Linked DNA regions of Homo sapiens: region 1 is linked to region 2. Evidence: fine-mapped expression QTL. Tissue or cell type: whole blood. Region 2 holds a variant in brackets; the other region holds the start of a gene. All regions are shown on one strand. Distances are between the middles of the regions.

Region 1 (4,240 bases), 43 kb after region 2:
CAACTCGGCCTTCCAAGGTGCTGGGATTACAGGTGTCAGCCACTATGCCTGTTTTTTGTTTGTTTCTTTTTTACTGGTAGAGCTATATTTAGACAAATTTCTAAAGGAAGACAAAACTGAGGTGTTTCCACATTCACTAAAATCTTAAAATAAGGGCATATAAAAGTTTTTTTCAACAAGCTCCTCTGTCTTAATTCGCATTGTGCTTGCTGGAAACTACAGCCATGTTTAGATCTCATCTATACTCTATTTCGGAAAAAGTCTAATTTTAATCATTAACTTCACATACTAATTAACGGCTGTAGTTAAGCTGTGAAACCTTACCTAAGCTAATAGGAAATTACCTTCACATGAGGACAACTTAAGTGATTCAGACACTCCACCGTTCTGACTATACTTTTGCTGTGTTGCCACCTAATTTTTATTACTACTCCCTTACTCACTACTCCAGCCAAACAGGCCTTTCTGCTGTTCACTGAAGACACCAAGCACATTCCAAGACAAAAGTCTTTCTGCATTGGTGGTCCCTCTGCCTGGAATGCTCTTTCCCCAGCTGTCAGCACAGCTAACTCCTTCACCTCCTTCCAATATTTGCTCAAATGTCATTTTCTCAGTGAAGCCTACCTAAGATTGCATCTTGCATTCCCCATGCCTCTTACCTCGCTGTATTTTTTTCCTATGGTACTCATGTACTTCCAACCTATAACTTCCTTCTTTTTGTTTACTGTTTATTATTTGTCTTCCCCAAACTAGAATGTAAGCTCCACAGGACAGAGATCTTTGTTTTGTTTACACATAGACCATTCCAAGAAGTTGGACATTGCCTGGTACACAGTAAGCACTCAGTATTACTGAATAAATGAGTGGATATCATACTTAGCACAAAAGGGATCTCTCTCTTCAGGTTCTGAATATGAGTCATTAATAGTGCACCTCAACTTCACTCCAGCACTTAAATGCATGACTTAAAAAAAAAAAAAAAAGCATGTGGCTTACAGCGTGTGTGGAAAAATTTTCCAGTATATGATCCTCTGAGCCTTTCATTAAACAGTCCTTTGAGCTTTGTGACATCATAATTCTGCTAAGTGGGTCGCTATTACCATTCTCATATTGCAAACTCAAGTAGGCAGTTATGTAGCCCCCGCCCAAATTAGTGAACCCAAAACAAAACCCACAAGATCTCATCAACAGTTTTTACCTCACAGCTGACACTTATAAAGGAGTTCCAAGTGCTTCCGCCAACTCCTCCTACCAGCAACTGTGAAAACAACGGCCAGTGAGTATCCAGGGCTGACTTTGGGCCGGGCACCCCATATCTCATTTCATCTAGTGAAGTAAGTCCCAAACCCCACTCCAGAGGCCCGGTCCCTGACCTGGAGGAAACTCAGTCCCAGCCCCTGGCTCACCCGCTGGGAAGTCGAAGGAGGGCCCGGAATCGTACCCAGGCCTGGATTACCTTCGCCCACGCCCACTGGGGCCCCAGTGTCTGGAGAGGCTGCACTTTACTCTCTCGAGGAAGCCATTCTGCACTTCCGCTCTCGGGGCTGCTTCCCGGGATGGTCCCTCCCTTTGGGTCCGCGGCGCCTCCAGCCACAAGGCAGGGAGATGGTGCGCCGGACTGGGGGGAAGGCTGTCCGGACCCGCCCTCGCGGCACCGGGAAGCCAGTCCCACCTCCGGGCCCCGCAGCCGCGAATGCCGGCAGACAGGGACCAGGAGGCACTCAAGTCCCACTGCGCACGCGCCCTGTAGGCCGGGCCGGAGTCACGTGCGCCAACGTTACGCACGCCGGCGACTCTCGCCTCGCCTAGGCCTCAGCTCCCTAGGTTTTGCTTCGCGGAGTACAGAAGCTGGGAGGCGCCAGCCTCCCGCCCCCGGCCACTATGGCAACGGAAGCGGCGCGCGCAGGCGGAGCATTCTTTGGCTCCGTCCCGAAGAGGGGTGAAAGGGAGAGGGACAGGGAGGCGAAGGGGAGGGGGAGGGGGAGGGAGGGAAGGGACGGGGCAAACCTGTCTGTCAGGACGTGCTGGTTCCGCTCACTGGCTGCTGGCCCCAAGGGCTTTCAGACTCTTCTGGACAGTTGTTACTTCCTGTACAGACTGGGTTGAAACTGCAGCTCAAAAGACGATAGGTTAAAAGCCAAACTAGGGAACTGCAAGATAAGATTGTTTATATATACATGACATAATATATATTAATTATGTTGCTTAATAAGCCAATAAGAAAAAGGCCAACAACCCCAGAAGGAAAATGAGCAAATATTAGAACAGGCCTCCCAAAAAACAAAAAAGTCAAACAAATAGCCACTAAGGATATACAAAACTGTTTAAACTATTATTAGACAAGAATGGAAATGAAAACAGCAAGTTTTCTTTTTACTCGGTTTAGCAAAGATGTAAAACCTTGGTAATGACCACTGTTGGTGTGACTATGGGGAAACAGGTTTACATCTGTGGATGGAAGAAAAACGTTATTAGAAACCTTACGGAAGGCAAACTTATTTATTTGTTTGTTTACTGAAACAAGGTCTTACCCTCACCCAGGCTGGTGTGCAGTGGCTCGATCTCGGCTCACTGCAGCCTCAACTTCCCCGGGCTCACGCGATCCTCCTAGAGAGATGGCATCTCCCTATCTTAGGCTGGTCTGGAACTCCTGGACTCAAGCGATCCGTTGGTCTCGGCCACCCAAAGTGCTGGGATTACAGGCATGAGCCAAGCCGCCTAGCCCAGAAGGCAAACGTTGAAAAGAGACATGCACTTTGGCTGGGCGCAGTGGCTCACGCCTGTAATCCCAGCATTTTGAGAGGCCGAGGCGAGCGGATCACGAGGTCAAGAGTCCGAGACCAGCCTGACCAACATAGTGAAACCCCGTCTCTACTAATAATGCAAAAAATTAGCCAGGCGTGGTGGCGGGCGCCTGTAATCCTAGCTACTTGGGAGGCTGAGGCAGGAGAATCGCTTGAACCCGGGAGGCGGAGGTTGGAGCGAGCCGAGATCTCACCACTGCACACCAGCCCGGGCGACAGTGCGAGACTCCGTCTCGGGAAAAAAAGAGGACATGCATTTTAACCCAGCAATTCCTCCTCCTCGCAGTTTATCCTTAGGAGATAATTAAACAGCTGGCACTCACTTTGGACAAAATGTTCATTTCAGCATCTCAATAACATAGCCAAATGGAAATACTCTAAATGTCTACTTTAAGAGAATTAATTAAATTATTACAGTACATCTATATAATGCACATATATGCATTATATGCAGCCATTAATAGGCTGTATGTGTCAACAGTATTGCATGAAAATAGAAGAATATTAGAATTATGTGTAGAGTTTTTAACCATTTATGTAAATAGATATATAGACATAAATGTAAAATTCATTTTTTACAAGTCTTCCAGAACATGGACCAATGGAGAAAAGATTATATTTTCACAAAATAGTGGTAGGTCATTTGTGTCTCTCCATGCAAAAAAAATTGTATTTGGACCCTCCTTACATCATAAACAAAAATACATTTCATTTGGATTGTCAGTCTGTATTTTAAAAGTTAATAAGAAAACATAAGAGAACATCTTTGCAACCTTGAAGTAGTCAAAAAGTTTATAACAGGACACAAAATACTAATCATAAAGGAAAAATGTATAAATTGAACTATATTAAAACTAAAAATATTTAGAGCCTGTAGTCCCAGCTCTAGGGAGGCTGAGGCAGGAGGATGGCATGAACCCAGGAGGTGGAACTTGCAGTGAACCGAGATTGCACCACTGCACTCCAGCCTGGGTGACAGAGCGAGACTCCGTCTCACAAAAAAAAAAAAAAAAAAAAAAAAAGAAAGCACGGGCTGGGTGTGGTGGCTTATGCCTGTAATCCCAGCATTCTGGGAGGCCAAGGCGGGCAGACTGCTTGAGTCCAGGAGTTTGAGACCAGCCTAGGCAACATAGTGAAACCCCGTCTCTACTGAAAAACAAAAAATTAACCTGGCATGGTGGTGTGCACCTGTAATCTCAGCTACAAGGGAGGCTGAGGTGGATCACCTGAGCCCAGGAGGTTGAGGATGCAGTGAGCTGAGATCACACCACTGCACTCTAGCCAGTACAACAGAGTGAGACCCTGTCTCAAAATAATAATAAAGTACAGGGATTTATTGCAAAGTGAATAGCATTTATACAAGTAAGTGCTATATTGTGTGGTACAAGTTAAGTGTTGTAGGAGTCTAAAGAATGAAGTTAGTAGGAAAAATATAG
Region 2 (4,240 bases):
AATTGAAGTCTAGTGGAAGAACACAGTGGCTGATGTGTGTGTGTGTGTGTGCACGCGCACGCACACCCATGCTCATGCATACCTCTTGAGAGCCGAGGTAAAGATGAGGACACAAACCTAAATCCACATAAAGTGGAATACAGGCCATGTTTTTCTGTGTGTTCTTCGTCTTTCTGACCAATTTGGTCTATATCAATGTCTGCACCCTGCCACAAAACCCTTAATAAACAGTCTTAACTTACGCTACTGGCAACTGTAACTGCCAGAGTTATCAAGAGCCATGGAAGACTGAAACCTTCTCTACCATGAATAAATGGGACTCCCAAAGAGGGTGACAATACCAGTGGTTTGGTTACAGCTGCTGCTTGTATCAGATGATCCATAGATGTTTTCCCACCCCAGAATAACAGTTTTTGTTCCTCTCTGAGGAATGAGTTTGGTTATTAGCTCAGGAAATGAAACAGTTTCCAAATCAGTGGTGACTATTTCTGCACAGTCTCTGCCTTTTCCCATAGCACAGCTTCATTGAGCTGGTAAGAGCTCAGTCTTCATAAATATGTAAAGACAGCATTCATCTTCCTGATTAATTAATCCAGTAACTGATCCAAGCTCTTGCCTATGAGTGCTCTTGGACCCATGGCTCCTATTCTCTCCACTCTGGTTTCCCCACCTGGGTCAGCCCTTCTCTTCATCTATTGTTGGGTAGCGTATAACAAAAGGGGTCCCTGGTCTAGACTGTTCCCACGTTCTCCAGCAGGCTGCCTATGAGAATTTCACAAATTCCTCATGCACTTTTAAATTTTAATAACGAAGATTGTGGATTTATGTGAATAGCGACAGATGGAATCTGAAAGCCAATTAATTTTGTCATTAAAGTATAATATAGGACAGCCGTATTACACAATCAAGCATGATGAATTATTTTTACATCCTGTGACATAGACAACTGGCTATCCCATGAAAGAAGGAATTCAATTTGCATTTAAATGCCATTCCCAGAATGTGACAGAGGCTCTCTGCATTATATAAGTTTCAAGAAGCTGAGGTTTGGCCAATTAATTTTAAGAAGTGTTTGTGATTGAAGTGCAAAAATGAATGGAGAAGTCAATACCTCAATGAAGGATCTTGTGAATGGCCCTCAGCCAGGGGAACCAGCCGCGCTGTGCAGGGGATTCCTGACCCACAGCAACCAGGAGATAAAAGGTGCTCTTGTTTTAAGCCACTAAAAAAGAAAAAATGAGTTGGGATCTTGTTGAACATCCACACACACACTTCTGGGCAAGTATATTTTCTCCTTACCATCTTCTCAGCTTTTCTAAACTTGATACAAACGATGCAGCAAGTGGGCAGGGTGTGTTCACCACCCTTTGGGCCATGGGTACCTGGAGAGAGATATGCATCCCCAGTGAGGTCTACACATTGTACACGCATGTGCATGTATGCACACACACAAATATACACATAGTTTCATTAACTCTTCTGGAGAAAACAATTTAAGAAAATGCCAACTTCTTTTTCAGCTAATTAAATGCCTATAGCCCATTAATTATAGATTAAGGGAACTAGTGTTTACCACAAAGTCATCTGGAGCTAGCATCTGAAGAGGTTGAATTCCATACTGAGAAGTTGGAACATTATTCTGTATGTGACAGAAAACCATTCTAAGATTTATGAAGATGGAGTTGGTATTAAACCACTAGTAAGTTGAAACTACTAAGAAGAATAAAATGGAGAGGTAGGGAAGTGGAACCTGGCAAACCAGTTGGGGCTATGGTAATCATTTA[T/C]GGAAAAAATAATACGGGGTTAACCAGAGGCAGTATGGATAAGAGAAGGGGGGAATATGGAAGCTCTGGGGCAATGGCTTCTTAGAAATTGACTAGGTGGATGGAGGATGGAGAAGAAAGAGTAGATGCAATTTCTAGCCTTCATGACTGTGTGTGTGATGAGGCCATTAATAGAAACAGCAACTATAGGAGGAAACACAGGTTTGAGGAAGAGGGAAAAACGATCATACTCTCACTTTTTAAACAATTTACTTACTCCTTTGATATGATGGGATGACAATACTACTTTACCTCTATGATCTTCCTCCCCCAAACCCATAACCCCAGTTTAATTATGTGAAAAACAACAGAAACAGTCCAATAGAGGGGCACCCTATAATACCCTTGACCAGAACCCCTTAAAATTGTCAAGGTCAGCAAGAAAAGTCTGAGAAACTGTCAGATGAGAGAGGAGCCAAAGGGGACAGGATGGCTGAATGCAATGTGGGACCCTGGAGGGGATCCTTGAATAGAGAAGGTCAGATATTAAGTAAAAACTAAGGAAATCTGAATACATTGTAAACTTTAATTAATAATAATGCATCAGTATTGGTTCATTAATTGCAACAAATGTATCATAGTAATGTAAAATGTTAATACTAGGAGAAACTGGAGAGTGGGGTTTGGGGAGAACCTATGAGAACTCTGTAAAAACCCCCTTATAAAGAGGGGTGGGAGGCTTGCTTACTAAAGTTTTGTTTGTTTGGTTAGTTGATATTTTTTTCTTTTTGGGGACAAAGTCTTGCTCTGTTGCCCAGGCTGGAGTGCAGTGGCACCATCACAGCTCACTGCAGCCTTGATCTCCCAGGGACAAGTCATCCTCCCGCCTCGGCCTCCTGAGTTGCTGGGACTACAGGTGCATGCCACCACGTCTGAATAATTTTAACATTTTTCTGTGGCGATGTGGTCTCACTGTGTTTCCCGGGTTGGCCTCAACTGGTCCTCCTGCCTTGTCCTCCCAGACTGCTGGGATTATACATGTGAGCCCCCATTCCCAGCCATTTTAAAAACTTTTGTGGCCGGGCGTGGTGGCTCATGCCTGTAATCCCAGCACTTTGGGAGGCCGAAGTGGGTGGATCACGAGGTCAGGAGTTCAAGACCAGCCTGGCCAAGATGGTGAAACCCTGTCTCTACTAAAAATACAAAAATTAGCTGGGCATGGTGGTATGCGCCTGTAATCCCAGCTATTCGGGAGGCTGAGGCAGAGAATTGCTTGAACCCAGGAGGCGGAGGTTGCAGTGAGCCAAGATCGCGCCTCTGCACTCCAGCCTGGGGTACAGAGCAAGACTCCATCTAAAAACAAACAAACAAACAAAAAACACCTTTTGATATCAGTAACCCATCATGGGAGTTGGGGGACACCGATTAAATAAGCTCTTGTTCCCCATGTGCAATTACTCCATTACAGATTAGACCACATCACTGATAACGACCACCTACCTGGATGAGAAAGCTGAGATGGCCGAAAGCAACTCGTTGCCTTGCGTAAAAGCTACAGTTTCTTGTACTGATGTTGAAATGGCCAGAAGGGGCATGTATGAGTGACGTAGTCATGTGACTGTGGAGGGGAAAGCCAGCCTGAGAAGGACATGTTTTTTTCAATGGCCGAGTTGGAGCTGCAAAGGTACTATGAATTCATACTTCAAAACTGTGCCTTTGAGTTTGTTTGCTTGTTTGTTCTCTGTGTGTATGTGTGTGTGTGTGTGTGTGTGTGTGTGTGTAGATGAGGTCTCACTATGTTGCCCAGGCTGGTCTCAAACCCTGGGGCTCAAGCAATCTTCCTGCCTTAGCCTCCCAAAGTGTTGGGATTACAGACAGGCATGAGCCACTGCACCCTGTGTGCGTGGCAGGGGGAGGGGGTGAGTGGCTGGGTGGGCGTGTGATTGCTGGGCCTTTGGATTTCATCCAGCAAACACTCACCTCCTGGGCAAGCTGGGTACTGTTAGATATTAGGGATATGAGGATAAATGTGTGAATGCGCCATGTCTGCTGCCCATAAGGAGCTCACAGTCTACTCTACAGACAGGATGGCGAATAATTACAGTACATTGCTAGAGCCAGGATGTTCTGTGTTAAAAAGAAAAAGAGTGTTTTGGAAGTGCTAAGACAGGAACAATGAACTCTACCCAGGAGGGTGGTGAGAGAAGGCAACACCAAAGAAAAAGCTTGTGAACTGGGCCTCCAAAAATAAGTAGGTTCTTGCCACGTTGAGTGGGAAAGGTACTGTAGGCAGATGATTCAACATTTGCAAAACACAACGACATTCAACAGCATCATGTGCTTGGGTAAGTGGCAGCTGGAGCATCCGGCAAGGGATTCACAACCTGGGAGCTGTGAGAAAGGTCTGTTAGGGAGAAGAAGGGCTGAAATCAGGGAGACCAGGTAGGAGGCTACTGTCATAATTAAGGCTGGAGAGG

Evidence for each region. PIP is the estimated chance that this variant, and not a neighbour inherited with it, causes the effect.
Region 1: CMTR2 starts here. The variant in region 2 is fine-mapped to the expression of CMTR2 in whole blood (TOPMed, PIP above 0.99).

What each region holds. Positions count from the first base shown.
Region 1 is chr16:71,287,680-71,291,919 of GRCh38, forward strand. It overlaps CMTR2 (cap methyltransferase 2), which reads right to left and starts at 1,723. Exons shown (of 3, transcript NM_018348.6): 1 at 1,457-1,723; 2 at 1,199-1,258. It overlaps LOC102723786 (a long non-coding RNA gene), which reads left to right and starts at 1,121. Exons shown (of 4, transcript XR_933707.3): 1 at 1,121-1,276. RefSeq lists silencers at 1,476-1,845, 1,926-1,995.
Region 2 is chr16:71,244,299-71,248,538 of GRCh38, forward strand. No RefSeq gene overlaps it. Among named protein-coding and RNA genes, the nearest start is that of HYDIN, 16 kb to the left of the region's middle. The variant T/C (reference allele first, on the strand shown) is at 1,785.